Homo sapiens: one gene and its partners. The protein of the gene in region 3 purifies or fractionates together with the protein of the main gene of each other region. This does not show direct contact. Each region holds a gene or a part of one and is shown on either strand. Other genes may lie near its edges. The genes, in order: IVD, L2HGDH, HMGCL, ABHD10, LSM12, ALAS1 and LYPLAL1.

Region 1 (4,171 bases), on a different chromosome or scaffold from region 3:
CCTGCTAGCTCCCTGCCTTCTCCCTCCGGACAGCCTATTAAACACATCATCTGGCCACCTCACCTGGAAGCCCAGATAGACATCTCTCTCCCCTGCCCAGCCCCTACCCTACTCCCCCCGCTATCTGCTCCCAAATGAGCTCCAAGGTTTAAGCAGAAGAGGACACAGGCAGTCCCTGCAGGGACACACCTGCCCAGAGTGTTCCTGCCGAGAGGCCACTGGTAGGACAAAGCTTATAGGGATTAGGGGAGGCAGTAAGACTGAGGTACTATGAAGACAACCACTTGATCCAGAGTTTTCTAAACTTCCCAAATCACCTGGGTGAGCCTATTAAGTATGCAGAGTTCAAGAGTTGGACTGATCCTGATCCAAGTGAGCCACAATGACCTAATTAATCCCTCTGCCTTCTCTACATCACTGTCTAATAAAATAGAAGAGTGTCCTGTTCTCTGGGCTGACAATCAATGGGTGCTTTCACAGGTCCAAAAGATGCAGTTCTGGGTTTCTTTAAGCACAATCTTTCCCTTCCCTTCCTGCTTCTTTTGGGAACTGTCTTAAAGGGCACATAAGAAAAGTTCTTTTTAGGGAAAGACACTATACTCACCAGGGGCTGTGATGCCCAATACGCCCAGGTTCCCCAGCTGCTTCCAAAATTCCTGCCAACAGAATGGAGCAGAGTGGAATAAGTGTTGAGGGGAAGGCAGCCAGTCACATGTGGCTGGAACAATGAGACCCAAACACTTCAGAGAGAGGGGCTGCATTCTTAGAGAGGCTTCATTTACCAGAAAACTGTGTGAGCTCTTCCAGGCAGCAGTGCAGCTCAGCCCCACTCCCTGACTGCCCCCGACTGCCCGGACCTCCCAACTCACTCGCAGGTTCTTGAACTCATTGCTGCGATCGATCTCCTGGGCCTTGGGGGCCAGGTGCTCCTGAAGGAACTTAGCCATGGTCTGACGAAGCTAATAGGAGAGAGGTAAACAGATGCCACTGCAGACAGCATCTCCACTACCCAGACACATTCAAGAGAAAAGGCCACAAGTAACTTCCCCAAACAGCATCAGACTGAAACTGAGAGGCCTCAGTAGTTTATGCCTCCTCAGAGATGATCTTCACCCCTCTTTCTTAAGGTCTTCAGCCTAGACAGCTTGATGGTAATTTTTAAAACGTCACACTTTACATAAAAATCATTCCATTGGTTTCCACTGTACTTAGAATAAAACACAAGCTTCTCACCCAGGCCTACTAGGCCCTGCAGGAGCTGACCCCAGCTGACTCTCCTAGCTTCCCCAGCACCTTCCCACCTCCCACCCTCTGTGCTCCAGCTGCATTCCAGGCAGCTGCCAGATCTCAATAGTTGTCAGGCTCTTTTAAGCCCCCGAACCTTTGGCTAAAAGGGTCTGATTACCCAAAGAGATTAGAAACGCCTCTTGGCGGCTGGGCATGGTGGCTCATGCCTGTAATCCCAGCACTTTGGGAGGCCGAGGCAGGAGGATCACCTGAGGTTGGGAGTTTGAGACCAGCCTGACCAACATGGAGAAACTCCGTCTCTACTAAAAACACAAAATTAGCCGGGCGTGGTGGTGCATGCCTGTAATCCCAGCTACCTGGGAGGCTGAGGCAGGAGAATCACTTGAACCCGGGAGGCGGACGTTGTGGTGAGCGGAGATCGCGCCATTACACTCCAGCCTGGGCAACAAGAGTGAAACTCCGTCTCAAAAAAAAAAAAAAAAGAAAAAAGAAAAGAAACTCCTCTTGCCAGGAAAGCTTGAGAATAGGGATTGAACCCTTTCCACTTGAGGTGGTTCACGGAAGCTCTGAGCGCTCGCTGGCTATAAACATAAACTACGGAGTTGCTGGGAGGCTCATACCTCCGCCAACTCCATCCAGCCTCCAAGTGAAACCTCAGGAAGGACTCTGGTTCTGCTCCATTTGTAAATACTACTTCGTCTTCTTTTCTATTTTTTATGAGATGGGGGTCTGGCTATGTTGCTTAGGCTGATCTCAAACCCCTGAGCTCAAACAATCCTCCCACCTCGGCCTCCCAAAGTGCTAGGATTACAGGTGTGAGCCACGGCGCCTGGCCTCCAACTACTTCTTTCAAGTACTTGTTCAACTTTTGTGTTTTGACCCAATGGGCTGAAGAGCGACAGGAGAGCTCACTGTGGCTTTTTAAAACCCCCAAACTGTTTATACAAAAAAGACTCCCTGGTGATTACGATGACCACCCAGGTGTGAGAAGCATACCTCAGCCTGTTCAGGTGTAAGTGAACTACATACAGATTGAGGGCCCTTGTGCCACAAGCGGTAGGTAGCCTGGCCAATCCTCCACCAAAACACCATCAGTCTCTCAGGAGCTCTCCCAGCCTCGACTCCTCCTCTCTACTTCCAGCAGTACTGTCCCACGGTCTCAAATCTTCACTCCACAGACGTGAGGCCGAGGTCAGAGGACTGGACCCGAGGTCGGAGGCCCCGCGTCCCGCCCCCGCGCTGGCGCTCCCAACGGCCCACGGGCAAAAGCCAAGGCTGGGTGGGCGCTGGGCCGATGGGGACCAGGCAGGAAGGAGGCCTTGGGGACCAGGCAGGAAGGAGGCCTTGGGGCCAGGAAGGGGGTCAGTCTCCTCACCTGCCTCTGCTCCTCGCTTAGCCCATTGATTGCATCGTCCACGGGCAAAAGCGAGTGGGCCCGCTGGGAAACGAAGCCGGCAAGCGGCGGCCGCAGCCTCCAGCTCGCCACACGCCACCCCAGCAGCCGAGTCGCAGTCGCCATCTCTGCCATGCACGAAGAGCCAGCGCTGAAACTGAGCCAGCTCTTAGCTCCACCAATCCAGGCTTCGCCGCCCACCAAACCGGCTAGGGGGTGGGCTGCAGCAGCCAATCACCCTAGGCGGCCCGCCGAAGGCGTTGCTGCCCTTGGACCGCACCCGAGCCAATCAACCGTGATCGCCTGCCAGCTTCCAGCCAGTGCAACGGCCGCAGGCCGAGTGGCCCTGCCCCGAACGCTGCAAATGCTGGCGTGCTCCCTAGGATGAGTGTTTTTAGCGGGGTAGAAGAGCAAGTGTTTTTTTCTTTTTATCTCCCTGCGTTGAAATAGCAGCCCCTAACTGCGGAAATCTCTCTGTGGGAAAGCAGAGTGTGGAAACAGCAATCAGAAAACTGCCCACGTACCCAGTAAATTGGTCAAGCATCTCTGGAATAATTAAGATCGGAAAAGTAGTGCTTGCTCTAACGTGCACACTGATCATAACAGAGTACATCTTGCTTTATTATATAACAAGGTTTGTAGATTTAGATTCATGTTTTATGGGAAAGGGGTTATTAAGGAGTAGCTGCCTTCTAGATTGGAGATGCGCCTCGATTTACAGTGGGGTTACTTCTCGATAAACCCATCATAAATGGAAAATATTGTAAGTCAAAAATGCACTTTGAAAATACACTTAGGCCGGGCATGATGGCTCACACCTGTAATCCCAGCACTTTGGGAGGCCGAGGCGGGTGAGTCACCTGAGGCGGAGAGTTTTAGACCAGCCTGGCCAACATGGAGAAATCCTGTCTCTACTACAAATACAAAAATTAGCTGGGCGTGGTGGTGCATGCCTGTAATCCCAGCTACTCAGGAGGTTGAGGCAGGAGAATCGCTTGAACCCGGGAGGTGGAGGTTGCGGTGAGCTGAGATCACGCCATTGCACTCCAGCCTGGGCAACAAGAGTGACACTCCGTCTCAAAACAGAAAACAAAAAAACACCTAACCTACCAAACATCATAGCTTAGACTAGTGGACCTTAAACGTACTTGGAACACTTATAATAGCTTATAACGGCACAATCATGTAACACAAAGCATATTTTATAAGACAGTGTTAGATATCATTTATTGAATATTGTACAGTTTCTATTCAATGTCTATCACTTTCACACCATCATAAAGTTGAAAAATCTTAAGTTGAACTATTGTAAGTTGGGGACCATTTGTATTTAATATGTGTTAAATATTAAATAGTACATATTTACGTATTATACTATATATTAAATAAGATGTATTAAATAGGCTGGGCATGGTTGCTCATGCCTGTAATCCTAGGACTTTGGGAGCTTAGGTGGGAAGATCGCTCGAGGCCAGGAGTCCAAGACCATCCTGTGCAACATAGGGAGACCCTGTCTCCACAAAAAATTTG
Region 2 (3,500 bases), on a different chromosome or scaffold from region 3:
CTGTGGTGGCTACAGTGAAAGACTCCTTCTGTTTGAGAAAAGCAGAGATAAAAGTAAAGGGGACTTTGTCTTACACCTTAGGTACCAGCTCAGCCACAGTGAGGTAGAGCAACAAGCAGGTTCTTGGGGTCCCCAAGTCAAGGCTTACACTCCTTTTTTTTTTTTTTTTTTTTTTTTTTTTTTTTTTTGTGAGACAGAGTCTCGCTCTGTTGCCCAGGCTGGAGTGAAGTGGCGTGACCTCGGCTCACTGCAACCTCCACCTCCTGGGCTCAAGCGATTCTCCTGCCTCAGCCTTCCAAGTAGCTGGGATTACAGGTGCACTCCACCACGCCCAGCTGATTTTTGTATTTTTAGTAGAGATGGGGTTTCGCCATGGTGGCCAGGCTGGTCTCGAACTCCTGACCTCAGGTGATCCACCCGTCTTGGCCTTCCAAAGTGTTGGGATTACAGGCATGAGCCACCGTGTCTGGCCCAGGCCAACACTCTTGGACGGCATTTCTAGCACTACCCTGGGCCAGAGGGGAGCCCACTGCCCTGAAGGGTAAGTCCCAGGCCAGGCAGCTTTCACCACAAGCTGATGGAAGAGCCCTTGGGCTTTAAGTGAATATTGGTGGTGGCCTGGCAGAAACCCTGTGGACCAAAGGTGGTGGTAGCCACAGGGAGTGGCCCCTCTGCCTGTGGAAAGGGGAGGGAAGAGTGAGAAGAACTTTGTATTGTAGTGTGAGTGCTAGTTATCCGCAGTAGAACAGAACATCAGGTAAACTACTAAAGTATTTGACCCCAATCTGTGGCTTCCAGACAGCATCTCTGGACACGCCTGGGGCCTGAGGAAGCTTACTGCCCTGAAGGGAAGGGCCCTGGGCAAGACCCAGTGCTGGGCTGGCTTCAGGTCTGACCCAGTGCAGTCCCAGTGGTGGTGGCCACAGGAGTGCTTGCATCACCACACCCCCCAGTTCCAGGGGGTTTAGCACAGACAGAAAGAGACTCCATTTATTTGGGAGGAAGTAAGGGAAAAGAACAAGAGTCTCTGCCTGGTGATCCAGAGAATTCTTCTGGATCTTATCCAAGACCACTTAGGTGGTACCTCTACAAGTCTACAAAAGACACAATGTTATTGGGCTTGTTACCCAAGTCCCTTTGAATACCTGGAAAGCCTTCCCAAGAAGGACAGGCACAAACAAGCTCAGACTGTGAAGACTACAATAAGTACCCAACTCTTCAATGCCCAGACACCAAAGAACATCTACTAGCATCAACACCATCCAGGAATACATAACCTCCTCAAATAAACTAAATAAAGCACCAGAGACCAATCCTGGAGAAACAGAGATATACGACCTTTCTGACAGAGAATTCAAAATAGCTGTTTTGAAGAAACTCAAAGAAATTCAAGACAACACAGAAAGAATTCACAATTCTTTCAGATAAATTTAACAAAGGGATTGAAATAATTAAAAAGAATTAAACAGAAATTCTAGAAATGAAAAATGCAACTGACATGCTGAAGAATATATCAGAGTCTCAATAGCAGAACTGATCAGGCAGAAGAGTTTGTGAGCTGAAAGACAGGCTATTTGAAAATACATAGTCAGATGAGACAAAAGAAAAAAGAATAAAAAACAATGAAGCATGCCCACAAAATCTAGAAAACATTCTCAAAAGGGTAAATCTAAGAGTTATTGGCCTAAAAGAGGAGGTACAGAAACATATAGGGGTAAATAGTTTATTCAAAGGGATGATAACAGAGAACTTCCCAAACCTAGAGAAAGATATCAACATTTGAGTACAAGAAGATTATAGAACCCCAACAGCATTTAATCCAGAGACTAACTCAAGCCATTTAATAATCAAACTCCCAAAGGTCAAGGATAAAGAAAGAATTCTAAAAGCAGCAAGAAAAAAGAAACAAATAATATACAATGGTGCTCCAATATGTCTGGCAGCAGACTTTTCAGTGGAAACCTTACAGGCCAGGAGGGAGTGGCATGACATATTTAAAGTGCTGAAGGAAAAAACCCTTTTACTCTAAAATAGTATATCCAGTGAAAATATCCTTCAAGCATGAAGGAGAAATACTTTCCCAGACAAAGTTGAGGGATTTCATCAACACTAGATATGTCCTACAAGAAATACTAAAGAGAGTTCTTCAATCTGAAAGAAAAGGATGTTAATGAGCAAGAAGAAATCATATAAAGGTACAAAACTTCCTGATAACAGCAAGCACACATAAAAAACACAGAATAGTATAACACTATAATTGTGGTGTATAAACTTCTCATCTTACATAGAAAGATTAAATGATGAACCAATCAAAAATAGTAACTACAACAACTTTTCAAGACACAGACAGTACAATAAGATATAAAGAGAAAAAAAAAAAATTAAAAGCCAAGGAACAAAGTTAAAGTGTAGAGTTTTTATTAGTTTTCTTTCTGTGTGTTTGTTTGCATATGCAATCAGTATTGTCATCAGTTTAAAATAGTGGGTTATAAGATAGTATTTGCAAGCCTCATGGTAAAATAGAAAAACATACAATGGATATCAAAAAATTAAACAAAAAGAAAGAAATTAAAACATACCATCAGAGAAAAATCACCTTCATTAAAAGGAAGATAGGAAGAAAGCAAAGAAGGAATTGAAGACTGTAAAGCCACCAGAAAACAAATAACAAAATGGCAGGAGTAAGTCCTTACTTATCAATAATAACACTGAATGTAAATAGACTAAAGTCTGCAGTCAAAAAGACATAGAGTAGCTGAATGGATGAAAAAACAAGACCCAATGATCTGTTGCCTAAAAGAAACTTACTTCACCTATAAAGATACAAAGAGACTAAAAATAAAGGGATGGAAAAAGATATTCCATGACAATGGAAATGAAAAAAGAGCAGGAATAGCTAGAATAGCTATATTGATATCAGACAAAATAGACTGCAAGACAAAAACTGTAAGAAGAGACAAAGAAGATTATTATATAATGATAAAGGAGTCAATTCAGCAAGAGGACATAATGATTGTAAATATATATGCACCCAACACTGGAGTACCCAGCTATACAAAGCAAATATTATTAGAGCTAAAGAGATAGACCCCAATATAATAATAGCTGGAGACTTAAACACCCCACTTTCAGTATTGGATAGATCTCCCAGGCAGAACCTCGACAAAGAAATGTCAGACTTAATCTGCACTACAGAACAAATAGACCTAATAGTTATTTACAGAACATTTCATCCAATGGCTGCAGAATACACATTTTTCTCCTCAGCACATGGATCATTCTCAGGGATAGACCATATGTTAGATCACAAAACAAGTCTTAAAACATTCAAAAAATTTGGAATAATATCAAGCATCTTCTCTGACCACAATGGAATAAAACTACAAATCAATCACAAGAGGAATTTTGGAAATTATATAAACACATAGAAATTAAACAATATGATCCAGAATGGGATCACATCAAGTTAAAAAGCTTTTGCACAGCAAAGGAAACAATCA
Region 3 (3,500 bases):
GAGGCCAGAAGTCCCAAATCAAGGTGTCAGCAGGATTGGTTCCTTCTGAGGCCTCTGGGAGAATCTGTCCTATGCCTCTCTGCTGGGGTCTGGTGGTGGCCAGCAGTCCTTGGCATTGCCTGGCTTGTAGATGCATCTCTCCAGTCTTTGCCTCCGTTTTCCCAGGGCCACCTTTTCTGTGTCTCTGTGTCTTCACTTGGCCATCTTTTGTTTTTGTTTTTTTTAGACAGAGTCTTGCTCTGTCGCCCAGGCTGGAGTACAGTGGCATGATCTCGGCTCACTGCAAGCTCCACCTCCCAGGTTCAAGTGATTCTCCCACCTCAGCCTCCCGAGTAGCTGGGACTACAGGCGTGTGCCACCACGACCGGCTAATTTTTTGTATTTTTAGTAGAGATGGGGTTTCACTGTGTTAGCCAGGATGGTCTCGATCTCCTGACCTCATGATCTGCCCGCCTCGGCCTCCCAAAGTGCTGTGATTACAAGCGTGAGCCACTGCGCCCGGCTGGCCATCTTTTTTTAAGGTCACCAGTCGTATGGGATTAGGGGCCCACCCTATTCCAGTATGGCTTCATCTTAACTAATGATATCTGCAATGACGCTGTTTCCAAATAAGGTCACATTCTGAGGTGCTGGGTTTTAATCCTTCAACATATATTTTTAGGAGGACACAATTCAACCCATAACATTCACATAACATAAAATTTACCTTAAGAGAAATTTTTTGCTACTCTGTGTCAGTGTTCTTTAAAGAGAAAAGTGCTGGCCGGGCATGATGGCTGACACCTGTAATCTCAGCACTTTGGGAGGCTGAGGTGGGTGGATCACAAGGTCAGGAGTTCGAAACCAGCCTGACCAACATGGTGAAACGCTGTCTCTACTAAAAATACAAAAATTAGCCGGGCGTGGTGGTGGGCTCCTGTAATCCCAGCTACTCAGGAGGCTGAGGCAGGAGAATCGCTTGAACCCAGGAGGTGGAGGTTGCAGTGAGCCGAGATCATGCCACTGCACTCCAGCCTGGGCAACAAAGCAAGACTCCATCTCAAACAAAAAAAGAGAAAAGTGCTGAAAGGAGTTCACCTGGATGTTGGCAGGTTGCTGCTGGAGCCAAGGAAGTAGTCATCTTTGGAGCTGCCTCAGAGCTCTTCACCAAGAAGAACATCAATTGTTCCATAGAGGAGAGTTTTCAGAGGTTTGACGCAATCCTGAAGGCAGCGCAGTCAGCCAATATTTCTGTGCGGGGGTGAGTCAGAGCACATTGGTATCCTTTCCTCTGTACCGTTCTGGAATGGGGCTAGACTCTGACTCAAGTGGTCCTCCTGCCACAAACTTCTTATCCTGGGTGGGGGCAGCCTGAGCTCCACACCTAGACATCTTTTCCCAAATAAGTGTGGTCAGAAGAAATCCTAGGAAGTACTTTCTCTCAAACCTGAATTTTGGGTCAGTTTACCAGCTAGCCATGATAGCATGCGCCTGTAGTCCTAGCAACTTGGGAGACTGAGGCAGAGGATGGCTTGAGACCAGGAGTTTGAGGCTGCAGTGAGCCATGATAGCACCACTGCTATCATGCTAAAGGAATCTAGCAGGACAGGACACTAACGGGTTTGTGGAGGTCAGTTGAGTCCTGGCTTTATCACTAGCTCTTCACACATCCCTGGAGAATTACCTAGGCTTCTATGTTTCCAACATCACATCTCTAATATCAGTGGTTCCAGGCATTGTGTGTGTATTATCTATAATAATTGAAACCTCACAATAGCCCAGCAGGGAGTAGGTTATCCTCACTTTATAAATTACAAAACCGAGGCCCAGGAAGGGCGAATACTCTACTGTAAGGTCACACTGCTGTGCAAATTGCAGCCAGAGGCCGGGCATGGTGGCTCACACCTGTAATCCCAGCACTTTGGGAGGACAAGGCAGGTGGATCACCTGAGGTCAAGAGTTCAAGACCAGCCTGGCCGACATGGTGAAACCCCATCTCTACTAAAAATACAAAAATTAGCTGGGCGTGGTAGTGGATAGAAACCCCGTCTTTACTAAAAATACAAAAATTAGCTGTAATTCCATCTACTTGGGAGGCTGAGGCAGGAGAATCACTTGAATCTGGGAGGCGGAGGTTGTGGTGAGCCGAGATCACACCACTGTACTCCGGCCTGGGTGACAGAGCAAAACTCCATCTCAAAAAAAAAAAAAAAAAAAAAAAAACATTGCAGCCAGAATGATCGTTGAAAAGTGCACATCTGGGCTGAACATGGTGGCTCATGCCTGTAATCCCAGCACTTTGGGAGGCCGAGGCGGGCAGATCACCTGAGGTAAGGAGTTTGAAACCAGCCTGGCCAACATGGGGAAACCCCATCTCTACTAAAAATACAAAAATTAGCCGGGCGTAGTGGCATGCACCTGTAATCCCAGCTACTCAGGAGGCTGAGGCGGGAGAATCACTTGAACCCAGGAGGCAGAGGTTGCAGTGAGCCAAGATCACGCCACTGCACTCCAGCCTAGGTGACAGAGTGAGACTCTGTCTCAAAAACAAAAACCAAAAAAACCCCACAAAAGTGCACATCTGATCACATCCCTCCTGGTTAAAAAGCTTTCAGTGACTAATCAAGTGCAGACTTTTTAATGAGGTTTACAAACCCTGCATGATTTGGTCCCGGCTCTTTTCTGTAGCCGTACCGTTCAAGTTCCCTTCTGGCCCCTGCTTCCTCTTCATGGTACACTCCAGCCCAACTGGAACTTCTTTCTGTTTGTCACATGCCTCCACTCTTGCCTCTGGGCCTTTGCACGTGCTCTCTCTAGACTCAGAACAACCTTCCTTGGGAGGCCAAGGTGGGCAGGTTGCTTCAGCCCAGGAGTTTGTGACTGGCTTGGGCCTGGGCAACATGGTGAAACCCCAGCTCTACAAAAAAAAAGCCAGGTGTGGTTGCATGTGCCTGTAGTCCCAGCTACTCAGGAGGCTAAGGTGGGAAGATCACCTGAGCCTGGGAGGTCCAAGCTGAAGTGAGCCAAAATCATGCCACTGCACACCAGCATGGGTGAAAGAGTAAGACTCTGTCTCCAAAAAATAAAGAACACTTCCTCCACATCATGCTTCTCGGGGATAACTCCTGCTCATCCTTCAGGTCTTCTTGTGGGAGTCAGTTCCTCTGAGAAGCTGCTCCAGTCCTTCAGCTGGAGTTAGTGCCCTTCTCTGGGACCCCATGGTGTCGGGACATCCTCTAAATGTAGCACTTAGCTGCTTGTTAAATTCCCTCCCTGCCCCACCCCACTAGACCGTGCACTCCATGAGGGCAAAGCCCACATCTCTCCCAGTCCCTGGGGTGCTCCACTCTCCCAGCTTGGGGCCTAGCCACAGTGGGCACTCAGTCACTGACGGGCAGGTGGATGAATGGGGAAGCAGGTGCTCCAGTAACATTGGCCCAACTCCCAGATCTGTGTCTTTCTAAGCATCTCTCTTACCTTTTTCTTGCTCAGCAGTGGTTGGAGAATAAGTGGGAGCATCA
Region 4 (3,500 bases), on a different chromosome or scaffold from region 3:
AAAGTTCCACATGGGCACAAGCTTTGTTTCAATGCGTTCCTAGTGCCTAGTTCAGTTCCTTGCGAGTGGTAGGTGCTTAGTGTATATTTAGTGAATTGATGGAAGGGAAGGAGACCAGAATAAAATTCATCATCACCAACCCATCCCTTTCTCCTTCCAACTTCCTAGTTATCTAGGCTCAGTTATCTGTCTGATCTATGAATTTTACCTCTCCTTAAGGGTATCAAATCAATAAAAAATCATGGTGGTATAAAGTATCATACCACACCCACAGGTTACCTAAACTCTAGTCATACTGAACTACTCCTAATTCCCAGTTACACCCTTTTATAACTTAGAGCCTTAGCATGCTGTTCTGCTGCCAAGAACAGCTTCCTCCCCAACCCAAATTCGTAGTCACCCTTTAAGTCATGTCACCTCCTCTGAGGAACTTCACTTGACATATATGCCCCATTTAGTACCAGTCACTTTCTTTTGTATGTACTCAACACTTTTCATATTGTATTGTAATCAAGTTTGTTTTTAAACATTCATCTCCCTCTGACTAGAATGTCAGTTCCTTAAGAGGAGGCTGTTTTATTCGTTTGTTTTTCCAGGCCACAGAATACTGCCTGCCCTATACCATCACCATTCTTTCTCATTTCTTCTTATGTTCATCCCTTTCTTGGTACTTTGGTAAGTCCAGTATCTTGGTGTAGGTGTTTATTTGTCATCTTAGACCTAGACTATCACAGTAGCCTTCTATCTTGTGTCTCTATGACTCTGTCTTTAAATAGAGTCACTATATACATGTCAGTTTTTTTCTTTAACATTTTAGCATTACCTTCAGTGCTCCCTGTGATATACAACATAAACACTTAGTGCTTTGGCCTGTTTTTTTGAACCATTATATTCTGGTCATTTCAGATTGATTTCACAATAAATTTTACAGTAAATTTTTTTTTACTACTAAATTTTACAGTAGTACTCACTTCATCAGGGAATACTACTGCTTTAGACAAATTGATGAACTTACTGTTCCTAAAATAGGTCTATGTTTTCTTATGTGTTTCACATCTCACACTGTTGATTCCTTTACCTGGAATACCTTCTTCCATCATCTTCTTTACTGATATATTTTCCCTTCTTTACTGATATCCTTTCCCAGAGCCTAGTTCAAATGAACCTTTTTGGTGGAATGGCTGGTACAGTAAGTAAGGGATTTATGAGAAATAGGGGAGAGAAGAAATTAAATTTTTCTTTAGGTTTGAAGTGAAACGATTTTGGATCCTTGGGAAATAGAACAGGGCAACTGGTGCAGTCTAAATCAGTTACTGTTTCCCCCTCAATCCAGGGTATGTAAGAGATGGGTAGAAGGGGTGGAAGAAAAAAGGGGGAAAGACACCAACTAATTTTCTCCTTTTCTCTCTTCATAGGTGGCAATTGGATATGGCTGAATGTGGCATCTTTTACAGTTAGCTGCCTTCCAAATATATGGTGAGGATGCAAAATACTTGTACAGCTCCTTCATGAAGGAAAATATAAATACTTGGTGATACTAACAGGGTACCATTAAAAAAATATAGTTAACTCTCACTGAACCCCAATCCAGAGACAAAGATAATCCAAACATATTCAGCACTTTAAAACTTTTAAACAGTAGCACATCTCCATCTTAGCAGCCTCAATAGTCTGGGATGTAGTCCCAAATAAAAATTCTATTACAAATAATTATGAGAGAATACCAGCCTTAAAACCATATGTTATATTCCTGAGATCTGAATCAGTCTTATTTTAGGCATGGTGATAGGACCTTAATAAAACATTTTCATATAGTCATATGTTTTATTTCTTGTGTAATAAACTATTTCATCATTGAAGATCTAAATTTTACAGCAAAAAATCCCAACAAAAGCAACCTGAAAAATTAGAGAATAGAAGATAAAATCTCTTATAATAAAGTGCAATCAATAGTTAACAATAATTAGACTGTGATGAACTTTGATAAGAGCAAATAAAATGGAACTTGTTCAAACTAAATATTTGTAGTTAAGCACTATTCTTTATGAAGGTATACTCACACAGGATCCAAAAATGCAGAAAAGCCACATTATGTCTTATAGGGAGACAGGAACTGGTTATAACTCTCATAGTCTCAAAGCTGAAATTTTAGAACTGGTAAAATGGTGATTTCTCGATTCAAATTTATTCAGTGGCAAAAAAGAAAAGTGATAACAATATTTTTGATATTATGATCTTCTGCTCAGGACAGTCCCCCTCCTTGGACAGCACTTCCCTCCCACCCAAATCTGAATTATTCTTCAACGTTCCTTTATCTATTTCAATCCCACTGTCTCTAACTTTATGCAATTAAGTATACTGTTCTTTTGACACAATCACATTCTGATGAGTATTTCTGCCAAATTTCTAACATGTATTTTATCTTGTGTTTCCCCACCCTGAATGAAAGGTCCTCATAGGCAAGTACAATGTTTTATAATTCTTTGTTATTATGCAGCACTCAGTATAGTGCTAGAGAATCTATTTCCAAAAAGTACTCCAATCTTCAGAATAAGTCAGAACAGATTTTAACATAGTTCTGAGTATGAAAATAAAATAATTCATTAGTTTGGTAAAAGAAATAAGATTAAATCTTATTTAATTTTATAATTGACATAATTGCTGCTAATATATTGAACAGGTAGTCTGAAAGTTTTATATACAGCTGTATTTTCTAGAATTATTGAATGAATGTTTGTGAGTCACTCTTCTAAAAATTTAGATGGATAGATTTTTAGGCTGTTAGTGCTAGAAAATAACTCAGAAGTTATCTCTAGTCCAACCTCCTTCTTTTGATGACAAACTTAGGTCCAATGTTTATTAACTTACTTGTCTTGTCATAGTTATTGCTCGAATTTATTCTAGAACTCATGTTTCTTGAATTCCAGGCTAATCTTCTTTTTACGAAATCATACCATCTCTTCTGGACAGTGGATACTAAACATATAACTGCTACAGGTAGACCTTATAATAACATAAAGTTATTTACTAAAATAACTCTCAGTGTGAAAAATTAGGAATTATAAAATCAAGCTTGAGTTAAGTACCACTTATCCCTATTTATGCTTATACATATTCAGATTACAGGAGAGGGAAGAGAAAACTCAGCAGAAATTTGCATTATGATACTTTTAAATACATGTATTACTTTTAGATAAACAGTGATCAAATAAAGTCCTTAAGTCCCCAGTGGAAAATGATAATATAAGAGACTGTATGAAAGCCAACTAGTATATCTGTTTGTTGTCACATACATTATTGCCTCTAAAGAGCTTAGTTACCAATATTTCCCTTAAGATGTCCTTTTCTGCCAGGGTTGTCAGCGTGGCACAAAGGCCTTTAAAAAAGGTCTTTTAAAGGTTGCTTTTAAAATTACCCTAAATCACAAGATGCAAGTTTACAGACCATTAAAATAATGTATAAAAATGCTGGCATTTACTTCAACTGATTAGAACAGAAGT
Region 5 (3,500 bases), on a different chromosome or scaffold from region 3:
GACAAAGGAAAACTCCTCTCCAAAAAAAGAAAAAAAAAAAATACAGCCTGGTACAGTGGCTCACACCTGTAATCCCAGCACTTTGGGAGGCCGAGGCAAATCACCTGAGGTCGGGAGTTCAAGAACAGTCTGACCAACATGGAGAAACCCTCTCTACTAATAATACAAAATTAGCCAGGTGGGGTGGCACATGCCTGTAATCCCAGCTACTTGGGAGGCTGAGGCAGGAGAATCACTTGAACCCGGGAGGCAGAGGTTGTGGTAAGCTGTAATCGTGCCATTGCACTCCAGCTTGGGCAGCAAGAGTGAAACTCTGTCTCAAAAACATAAAAAAATAAGACGGACGTGGTGGGGCGCACCTGTACTCCCAGCTACTCGGGAGGCTGAGACAGGAGAACTGCTTTAGCACAGGAGGCGGAGGTTGCAGTGAGCTGAGATAGAGCCATGGCACTCCAGCCTGGGCAACAGAGTAAGACTTTTTTTTTCTTTTTTTTTTGAGACGGAGTCTCGCTCTGTCTCCCAGGCTGGAGTGCAGTGGCGCGATCTCAGCTCACTGCAAGCTCCGCCTCCTGGGTTCACACCATTCTCCTGCCTCAGCCTCCCAAGTAGCTGGGACTACAGGCACATGCCACCACGCCCAGCTAATTTTTGCGTTTTTAGTAGAGACGGGGTTTCACCATGTTAGCCAGGATGGTCTTGATCTCCTGACCTCGTGATCCGCCCGCCTCGGCCTCTCAAAGTGCTAGGACTACAGGCGTGAGCCACCGTGCCTGGGTGAGACTTCATCTTAAAAAAATAAATAATAATGTGCCAGGTACAGTGGCTCACGCCTGTAATCCCAGCACTTTGGGAGGCGGAGGTGGGCGGATCATGAGGTCAGGAGTTCAAGACCACCCTGGCCAAGATGGTGAAACCCTGTCTCTACCAAAAATACAAAAATTAGCCAGCTGTGGTGGCAGATGCCTGGAATCCCAGCTACTCCGGAGGCTGAGGTAGAGAACTGCTTGAACCTGGGAGGCAGAGGTTGCAGTGAGCTGAGACAGCACTACTGCATTATAGCCTGGGAGACAGACGGAGACTCTGTCTCAAAAAAAAAACAAAGTAATAATAATAATAATAATACATAAAGTCAAAGTTTCCAAGAACCTACCAAAGACGTTAAGTGAGAGCCTAGTGTAATGGCATAAATCTTCTATGGGCCCTTTGTCACAATGCCCTCCTTCCCCTGCCTTATCTCATCCCATAATTCAATGAGCATTAGTTAGCTACAATAAAAAAATCTGGGCCGGGCACAGTGGCTCACGCCTGTAATCCCAGCACTTTGGGAGGCTGAGATGGGGGGATCATGAGGTCAGGAGATTGAGACCATCCTAGCTAACACGGGGAAACCCTGTCTCTACTAAAAATACAAAAAAATTAGCTGGGCGTGGTGGTGGGCGCCTGTAGTCCCAGCTACTCGGGAGGCTGAGGCAGGAGAATGGCGTGAACCCAGGAGGCGGAGCTTGCAGTGAGCCGAGATCGCGCCACTGCACTCCAGCCTGGGCGACTGAGCAAGACTCCGTCTCAAAAAAAAAATAATAAATAATAATAATAATAATAATAATTTGGGAGACATTAACTAACATCTGCCAAGTCTAATGACTTTAAAGACTGATCTACTTGGTTCATTCCTAAGTCTTTTCTACTAGACTACCCTGCCCCTGACCACAGAACATAGATGTTTTTCTTTACTTAGAAACGTTACCTAGGGGCTGGGCCAGTGGCTCATACCTGTAATTCGAATACTTTGGGAAGCCGAGGAAGGAGGATTGCTTGAGCCCAGGAGTTACAGACCATCCTGGGCCACACAGTAAGACCCTGTCTCTACAAAAAAAAACTAGGCTGGGCGCGGTGGCTCACGCCTGTAAACCCAGCACTTTGGGAGGCCAAGGCGGGTGGATCATGAGGTCAGGAGTTCGAGATCAGCCTGGTCAACATGGTGAAACCCCATCTCTACTAAAGATACAAAAAATTAGCCAGGCATGGTGGCGCACGCCTGTAATCCCAGCTACTTAGGAGGCTGAGGCAGGAGAATTGCTTGAACCTAGGAGGCAGAGGTTGCAGTGAGCCGAGATCACGGCACCACCGCACTCCAGCCTGGGCAACAGGGCAAGACTCCATCTCAAAAAAGAAAGAAAAATTAGCCAGGTGTGGTGGTTTGTGCCGGTAGTCCCAGCTACTTGGGAGGCGAGGTGGAAAGATCACTTGAGCGAACCCTGGAGGTCGAGGCTGCGGTGAGCTGTGACTGCATCATTTGCACTCCAGCCTGGGCACAGTGCGAGACTAACTAAAAAGAAACAAAACAACCACCCAGGTGTGGTGATGGGAGATTGTAGTCCCAGCTACTCAGGAAGCTTGGGCGGATCACTTGAGGCTATGAGCCAGGAGTTCGAAGCTGCAGTGAGTTATGATCATGCCACTGCACTCTAGCCTGGTCAACAGAATGAGACTATATCTCTAAAAAACAGAACACACACACACACATACACACACACACGAAACATAACTTAGCATTGTACATTATTCAGGGTACTTCATGTTGCCAAACTATGAGTTCCTTGGGCTAAACACAAAGTAATAGAAAAACAGGGGACTTGGCCAGGTGCAGTGGCTCACGCCTATAATCCTAACACTTTAGGAGGCCGACGCAGGTGGATTATCTGAGGTCAGGAGTTCAAGGCCAGCCTGGTCAACACGGCAAAACCCCATCTCTACTAAAAATAGAAAAATTAGCCGGGCATGGTGGCAGCAGGCGCCTGTAATCCCAGCTACTCAGGAGGCTGAGACAGGAGAATCGCTTGAACCGAGATCACACCGGGCAATGGACTGAGACCCTGTCTCAAAAAAAAGAATTCCCCCTACTGCAACCCTACTGTCCTCTCTCAAGCTTCCTCTTACATGCTACTGCTGGAGATAGAAATAAGACTTCTTAGCCTGAAGTGAACTATCATTCGAAAGCAAAACAGGCCAATTTCCAAGAAGTTGCTAGTTTATACCTTCCCTAGTTGAGCTATTATTAAGTATTTCCTGTATAAGCCCTTCTCTTCCATTTCCTGCTAGGTCAGAGTCAACAAATATCCGGTTTTTATCAACAGGTTTAATTAAGCAGATCACTTACTATGTCAGCAAGATGGGCCAATATGTGATGATACCTTTGACTAAAGTTAGAGTAGGCCGGGTGTGGTGGCTCAAGCCTGTAATCCCAGCACTTTGGGAGGCCGAGGCGGGCGGATCACAAGGTCAGGAGATCGAGACCATCCTGGCCAACATGGTGAAACCCCGTCTCTACTAAAAATACAAAAAAATTAGCCGGACATGGTGGCGGGCGCCTGTAGTCCCAGCTACTCGGGAGGCTGAGGCAGGAGAATGGCATGAACCCGGGAGGTGGAGCTTGCAGTGAGCCGAGATGGCGCCACTGCACTCCAGCCTGGGCGACAGAGCAAGACTTCGTCTCAAAAAAT
Region 6 (3,334 bases), on a different chromosome or scaffold from region 3:
AAAGTCAGGGGGAGGCAGCTGTAGCAGGACTGCTGGGCAGCACTGACTGTCCATTGAAGATGTGAAGTGAGAAGTTTAAAGTGAAACCGGCCGCCAAGGTGGTGTCACTCTTTCAAAACTGTTCAGTTGCCGGGTGCGGCTGGGTCAGCCACTGGATACAGTAGGCATTAAGGAGGTAGCAGGGCTCAAGCAGTGGGAGGTTCTGCTGCTCCTCCTCTGAAGCCATTACCAGAGCTCCAGTACTTCATTCAGTTTATTCATTCCTAGAATACAGACTGAACTTAAAGGGATGATGACAATTATTATTTTTTATTTCAGAGGCAGTCTTGCTCTGTCACCCAGGCCGGAGTGCAGTGGAGCAATCATGGCTCACTGCAGCTTCAAACTCCTGGCCTAAAGTGATCCTCTTGCTTTGGCCTCCCAAGTGTTGTGATTACAGGTGTTAGCCACTGTGTCTAGCCAATGAAGAATGTTATCCAGTAGCCAATAGCAGAAAGAACCACCATTTAAGCAAGAATTTATTTCCAGGACTATGTTTTTACTATAGATTAAAATTTAATATAACTTAATTCACATATAAAGACAACTCTGAAGACCATCTGGATATGATAATGGCCTGGGGTTAAGTGAAATAATTGAGGTCATGCTCAGGCCTGAGCAGATACCAACTTGCTCAAGCCTGAGAAATAGGACTTCTCTCTTTCACTCATCACTTCAAAATGCAGTGGCCTCCTGCAGAAGTTGCACTCAGCTGAGGAATGAGGCTTCAGTTCCAGCCCCACTTGCTTCCATGTGACTAGCAGATTCTCTGAGGAGAAACAGTTTTTAAATATTAAAGGGAGTAATATACACAAGAGAAATGAAAACATATGTCCACACAAAAACTTGTACACAAATGTTCATAGCAGCATTATTCATAATAGTTAACAAGAGAAACAACCAAATGTCCACCAATAGACGGATAAACAAAATGTGGTAAATCTGTACAATGGAAGGTTATTTGGTAACAGAAAGAAATGAAGTGCTGATGAATGCTACAGCATGGATGAGCCTTGCAGACATGATGCTGGAAGAAGGCAGACACAAAGGAGCACAGGCGGTATGATTCCACTTAGACACAAGGTCCAGAAAAGGCAAATCCATAGAGACAGAAAGAGCCGTGGTTGACAGGGGCTGGGGATGGGGAAAAGAGGAGTGACTCCTAATGGGTAGGGGCTTCTGAGGTGATGAAAATGTTCTAGAATCAGATAGAAGTGATGGTTGCATAACACTGGGAGTGTACTTAAAAATCATAGACTTGGATACTTTAAAAGGGTGAATTTTATGGTAAGTGAGCTATATCTCTACTGAGATAAGGCTTTTATAAAAATTTTAAGGCTTTTATAAAAATAAATAAAGAGAAAAATAAAACCCAGAGTTGGGCTTGATTTCACAGGCCTGTAGGGAAGAAGCTGCTCCAACACTGCCACGTGACAGTTTAAACCCAGCATTTCCAACAGAACAGAGAGCCTGTGAGGAAGCTGAGCCACGCTGGGCGGGCTTGGGAAGGCAATGTACCTTCGAGGCAGAGGTGACCTGTGGCTAATAGCCCCCTTCCATCTCTGCCTTTAGGTTGGACATGGGTGGAGCAGTATAGAACCACGGGGCAGTTGAAAATATTGAGCAATTCCTCTTATCAGAGGCGATTAGGTGTGGGGTTATTCAAGGATTATACAACATCATGGAGTAGAGGGCAGTGGTGAAGACAAATGTGAGGTGGACTCCGGAGGGACAGCGGGGACTCAAGCCTTCAGAGGCCTCTTCTCCCTGCAAGTCATTACTGTGCATCCTTCAGCCACGTAGACAAGGGGGCACTGGAAACACTGAGCGGATTCCCAGGCTCCCTCAGAGCTCCCAAAATGACTCTCCACCCTCTTGATGTGAATCAGACAATAAATACCTTTTAGGGTTTTGAACCATTTGAGGGCATGCTTAGTTACTTGGAAAAAGAAGAAACAGGCCGGGCACCAGGGCTCACACCTGTAATCCCAGCACTTTGGAAGGCTGAGGTGGGTGGATCACCTGAGGTCGGGAGTTCGAGACCAGCCTGACCAACATGGAGAAACCCCATCTCTACTAAAAATACAAAATCAGCCAGGCGTGGTGGCGCATGGCTGTAATCCCAGCTACTCAGGAAGCTGAGGCAGGAGAATCGCTTGAACCTGGGAGGCAGGGGTTGCGGTGAGCCGAGATTGTGCCATTGTACTCCAGCCTGGGCAACAAGAGCGAAACTCTTGTCTCAAAAAAAAAACTAAAAAAAGAAGAAGAAACAAATCTGAATGCCTCTGAAGGGCTTCAATTATAAACACTGCAAAGACAGCTTTATGCAACTCCTCAGTGAGGCACCAGCAGCTCCCCAGGTACTCACCAAGGAAGTAGTTCATCATCTGGGGTGTGTGGTGAGGGGTGGGGGCAATCCGTAGGAGCTCTTCTCCCCGGGGCACCGTAGGGTAATTGATTGCTTGCACGTAGATGTTATGTCTGCTCATTAGTTCATCACAGACTTCTGTGTTTTTAGCAGCATCTGCAACCTAAGTTCAATGAGAGCAGAAGGTAAGGTCACAACAGGAAGGACTACCTCTTAGCAGAGATCCTAACGAACGCAGTCCCCACAACGCTCAGGCTCAAGACCAGACTGTAGCAACACATGCAAGCTTGGGGCAGAGGGAAAGCGCTGCCCAAACACCTGTCATTTAAAAGAAGCCAGTGTTGTTTCGTGAACACCAGGGAACCAAAACCTTATTAAAAAGAAATACATTTTTAATCAGAAAACACTGGTTCTGTTCGTACCAGCAGACTCTCATACCCACGATGTATAATCTAGATTCAGTTATACTAGCTGTATTCATTACACTAATTCAACTGTGACATCAACAGTGCTACCATTTGTAGTGGGAAGGGCAAAACCTATTTTGAAATTTACTAAGTAGAAAGCCATACTTCAAAGCTGGCCAAGCTCAGGCTTCTGGAGCTTTCTAGATACAAGCTCTGTGTTTACCCTGTTAAGGTCAGTGCTCCGGAGAGGGAACTTCTGCCCCAGCCTGCTGGGTTCAAAGGCTTTCTTCTCTTGGTGAAGTCAGCCAATGGCGGAAACATGACAGAGGGTGGCTGGCTACAACCCCTGCCCTGGCAGTCACCCCGCTCAAGCCCAACTTCAGGAAGGTATGAAGCAGAACATCCGTACATCATGTGTAGAGGCACACCCCACGGCAAGTCCAATCAGAGACAGGCCATTACCCGCACAGGGATGATGTGGCTGGGGCAGTGGACAACAGGGAGGCCGGCATCCATTAGC
Region 7 (3,500 bases), about 200 Mb from region 3:
TTTTATATGTGTGTTTAACTTCATTTAAGATTTGTTTCTGCTTTGAGAAGCATCTGTTCATGTACTTTGCCCACCTTTTAATGGGGTTTTCTTTTTCTTGTAAATTTGTTTAAGTTCCTTGTAGATTCTGGATATTAGACCTTGGTCAGATGGATAGATCGCAAAAATTTTCTCCCATTCTGTAGGCTGTCTGTTCACTCTGATGACAGCTTCTTTTGCTGTGCAGAAGTGCTTTAGTTTATTAGATACCATCTGTCAACTTCTGCTTTTGTTGCTATTGCTTTTGAAATTTTCATCATAAAATCTTTGCCCATGTCTATGTTGTGAATGGTATTGCCTAGATTTACTTCTAGGGTTTTTATAATTTTTGGTTTTACATTTCAGTCTTTAATCCATCTTGAGTTAGTTTTTGTATAAGGTGTAAGTAAGGGGTCCAGTTTCAATTTTCTGCATATGGCTAGCCAGTTTACTCAGCACCATTTATTAAATAGGGAATCCTTTCCCCACTGTTTGTTTTTGTCAGATTTGTTGAAGATCAGATGGTTGTAGATGTGAGGTCTTATTTCTGAGATCTCTATTCTGTTCCATTGGTCTATGTGTCTGTTTTTGTACCAGTGCCATGCTGTTTGGTTACTGTAGCCTTGTAGTATAGTTTGAAGTTGGGTAGCATGATGCCTCCACCTTTGTCCTTTTTGCTTAGGACTATCTTGGCTATATGGGCTCTTTTTTGGTTCCAATTTTAAAGTAGTTTTTTCTAATTCTGTGAAGAATGTCAATGGTAGTTTAATGGGCATAGCATTGAATCTATAAATTACTTCGGGTAGTATGGCCATTTTCATGATATTGATTCTTCCTATCCATGAGCATAGAATGTTTCTCCATTTGTTTATGTCCTCTCTTATTTCCTTGAGCAGTGGTTTGTAGTTCTCCTTGAGGAAGTCCTTTGTATTCCTAAGTATTTTATTCTCTTTGTAGCAATTGTGCATGGGAGTTCATTCATGATTTAGCTCTCTGCTTGCCTACTGTTGGTGTATAGGAATGCTTGTGATTTCTACATATTGATTTTGTATCCTGAGACTTTCCTTAAGTTGCTTATCCACTTAAGAAGCTTTGGGGCTGAAACGATAGAGTTTTCTAGATATTGGATCATGTCATTTGCAAATAGACACAGTTTGACTTCTTCTCTTCCTATTTGAACACACTTTTTATTTCTTTTTCTTGCCTGATTGCCCCAGCCAGAACTCCCAATACTATGTTGAATAGAAGTGGTGAGAGAGAGCATCTTTGTCTTGAGCTGGATTTCAAGGGGAATGGTTACAGCTTTTGTCCATTCAGTATGATACTGGCTGTGGGTTTGTCATAAATGACTCTTCAGACATTTCTCAAAAGAATACACTTATGCAGCCAAAAAACATGAAAAAAAGCTCAACATCACTTATCATTAGAGAGCTGCAAATCAAAATCACAATGAGATGCCATTTCATACCAGTCTGAGTGGCAATTATTAAAAATTCAAGAATTTTTGAATTTTGAATTTTTAATATGCTGGCAAGGCTGTGGAGAAACAGGAACACTTTTACACTGTTGATGAAAATGTTAATTAGTTCAAGGATTGTGGAAGACAGTGTGGCAATTCCTCAAAGACCTAGAACCGGAAATACCATCTGACCCAGCAATTTCATTACTGGGTATACACCCAAAGGAATATAAATCATTCTATTATAAAGATACATGCACACATATGTCCACTGCAGCAGTATTCACAATAGCAGACATGAATCAATCCAAACGCCCATCAATGACAGACTGGGTAAAGAAAATGTGGTACATGTACACCATAGAATACTATGCAGCCATAAAAAGGAACAAGATCATGTCTTTTGCAGGGACAAGGATGGAGCTGGAAGCCATTATCCTCAGCAAACTAACACAGGAACAGAAAACCAAACACTGCATGTTGGAAGCTGAACCATGAGAACACATGGACACAGAGAGGCAAATAACACACACTGGGGCCTGTCAGGGAGGCGGTGAGAGGGAGAGCATCAGGATAAACAGCTAATGAATACAGGTCTTAATACCTAGGTGATAGGTTAATAGGTATAGCAAAACACCATGACACATGTTTACCTATGTAACAAACCTGCATGTCCTGCACATGTATCCTGGAACTTAAAATAAAATTAAAATTTTTAAAAGATTTGATTTTGTTGTACTAGGATTCTTTAAAATGTAATATACTGCAGAAAATCCATAATATCTCTAGTACTCAAAGATGAACTAGATAAAGTAATGGATCTGGGAAAGGAAGAGAGAGGATGGGGCAAGAGACAAATGGACAGCAGTTACCATTCAGTGTGATAAACTCTTCAATACACACTCATTAAGAGTACTACTCAGAGTATTTTCTCCTTTTATCTATTTTTTTGCTTATGAAGAATGTACTTTTATTTTTTAAAGCAATTTCTCATCCTGATCTTTTCTTTTCCTATTGCCACCACACCACTTCAGACTTTCATTATATTATACTGGTTTCTCCATGTCAGACTTCTCATCCTTTTACTTACCCCTTCTGCCAAATTAGTTTTTCAAAGTACAATTCTTATGACTTGAAGACATTATTTAATGATCCTTTACCAATTATTACATGTTATTATACCTACAAAATAAAGGATTAAAAACTGAACAGAGTATTTACTGAGAGTCTGGAAGAAACCAAATAGTTTGTTCATCTCTCAGTAAACAGATATTATATTATTATTTCCACTTTACAGATTAGGTAGCAAAAATTAAGTGTAGGTAATAAGTGGTGAGCCAACTAGGAAGTGGTGGACTGTAGATTTGAACTCATTTTTGTCACCATTATGCCATCACGTTCTAGTCTCTTACTGTGGCTATCTGAGTCAACAGGTACTTTTTAGTTAGACACAAACTTTGTTACAGCCAACTACTGTCCAGACAGACAAAAACAAAAAGCATTACTCTGTCCACTTCTACTTTACTGTACAAATCATTCCCTCTACCTAGACTTCTACACTGTAATAGTTAAAATTTTAATAATTTGTGCATCTTAAATGCCACTGCCATCTTTCTATTAAATCTTTCTCTTACAGCCCCAAATGCATGTGACTACTTCTTCCTCTCAATTCCTACAGTACTGACAATTTATTGATTGGGTAATGTTATTTGTTATAGATTTCCTGAGTATTTGCTCTGTGCCAGGCATTGTGATAGGTTCTGGGAAATAAAAAGAAATATATACTATCATTGGCTTTGAAAAGCTATTAGTTATACCACATTAGAGCACTCATCACAGCCTGGCTGGCATTATAGTTACCACTTTAAGAATCTCATTGGCCCTTTCAGGTTGTAAGAAATATGTAAGGCAGATAGATCTTGCTTTACTTATCTGCACATCCCCGTGAACATCTATAATAATGCGTAGCACATAGTGGGGACTTAAAAAATACTTGCTAAAGATTGAATGATGACTGAATGAT

What was found.
Region 1: the proteins of HMGCL (region 3) and IVD purify together in Homo sapiens (affinity purification with mass spectrometry; one large-scale study listed by BioGRID and IntAct). This does not show direct contact.
Region 2: the proteins of HMGCL (region 3) and L2HGDH purify together in Homo sapiens (affinity purification with mass spectrometry; one large-scale study listed by BioGRID and IntAct). This does not show direct contact.
Region 4: the proteins of HMGCL (region 3) and ABHD10 purify together in Homo sapiens (co-immunoprecipitation; one large-scale study listed by IntAct). This does not show direct contact.
Region 5: the proteins of HMGCL (region 3) and LSM12 fractionate together in Homo sapiens (co-fractionation; one large-scale study listed by BioGRID). This does not show direct contact.
Region 6: the proteins of HMGCL (region 3) and ALAS1 purify together in Homo sapiens (affinity purification with mass spectrometry; 3 studies listed by BioGRID and IntAct, with this or other methods). This does not show direct contact.
Region 7: the proteins of HMGCL (region 3) and LYPLAL1 fractionate together in Homo sapiens (co-fractionation; one large-scale study listed by BioGRID). This does not show direct contact.

What each region holds. Positions count from the first base shown.
Region 1 is NC_000015.10:40,404,424-40,408,594, reverse strand, and holds the start of IVD (isovaleryl-CoA dehydrogenase, mitochondrial isoform 1 precursor), read right to left. Parts: upstream 2,801-4,171; 5' UTR 2,777-2,800; coding exon of another isoform or gene 2,768-2,776; coding exon 2,624-2,767; exon of another isoform or gene 2,341-2,623; coding exon of another isoform or gene 2,245-2,340; intron 960-2,244; coding exon 870-959; coding exon of another isoform or gene 783-869; intron 657-782; coding exon 605-656; intron 1-604.
Region 2 is NC_000014.9:50,249,730-50,253,229, forward strand, and holds part of L2HGDH (L-2-hydroxyglutarate dehydrogenase, mitochondrial isoform 1 precursor), read right to left. Parts: intron 1-3,500.
Region 3 is NC_000001.11:23,811,930-23,815,429, reverse strand, and holds part of HMGCL (hydroxymethylglutaryl-CoA lyase, mitochondrial isoform 1 precursor), read left to right. Parts: intron 1-1,091; coding exon 1,092-1,240; intron 1,241-3,500. UniProt on the Homo sapiens protein: Mitochondrial 3-hydroxy-3-methylglutaryl-CoA lyase that catalyzes a cation-dependent cleavage of (S)-3-hydroxy-3-methylglutaryl-CoA into acetyl-CoA and acetoacetate, a key step in ketogenesis. Terminal step in leucine catabolism.
Region 4 is NC_000003.12:111,982,026-111,985,525, reverse strand, and holds part of ABHD10 (palmitoyl-protein thioesterase ABHD10, mitochondrial isoform 1 precursor), read right to left. Parts: intron 1-3,500. UniProt on the Homo sapiens protein: Acts as an acyl-protein thioesterase that hydrolyzes fatty acids from acylated residues in proteins.
Region 5 is NC_000017.11:44,056,672-44,060,171, forward strand, and holds part of LSM12 (protein LSM12), read right to left. Parts: intron 1-3,500. UniProt on the Homo sapiens protein: Nicotinic acid adenine dinucleotide phosphate (NAADP) binding protein. Confers NAADP sensitivity to the two pore channel complex (TPCs) by acting as TPC accessory protein necessary for NAADP-evoked Ca(2+) release.
Region 6 is NC_000003.12:52,211,494-52,214,827, reverse strand, and holds the end of ALAS1 (5-aminolevulinate synthase, non-specific, mitochondrial isoform 1 precursor), read right to left. Parts: coding exon 3,277-3,334; intron 2,571-3,276; coding exon 2,408-2,570; intron 820-2,407; coding exon of another isoform or gene 809-819; coding exon 648-808; 3' UTR 501-647; downstream 1-500.
Region 7 is NC_000001.11:219,194,378-219,197,877, reverse strand, and holds part of LYPLAL1 (lysophospholipase-like protein 1), read right to left. Parts: intron 1-3,500.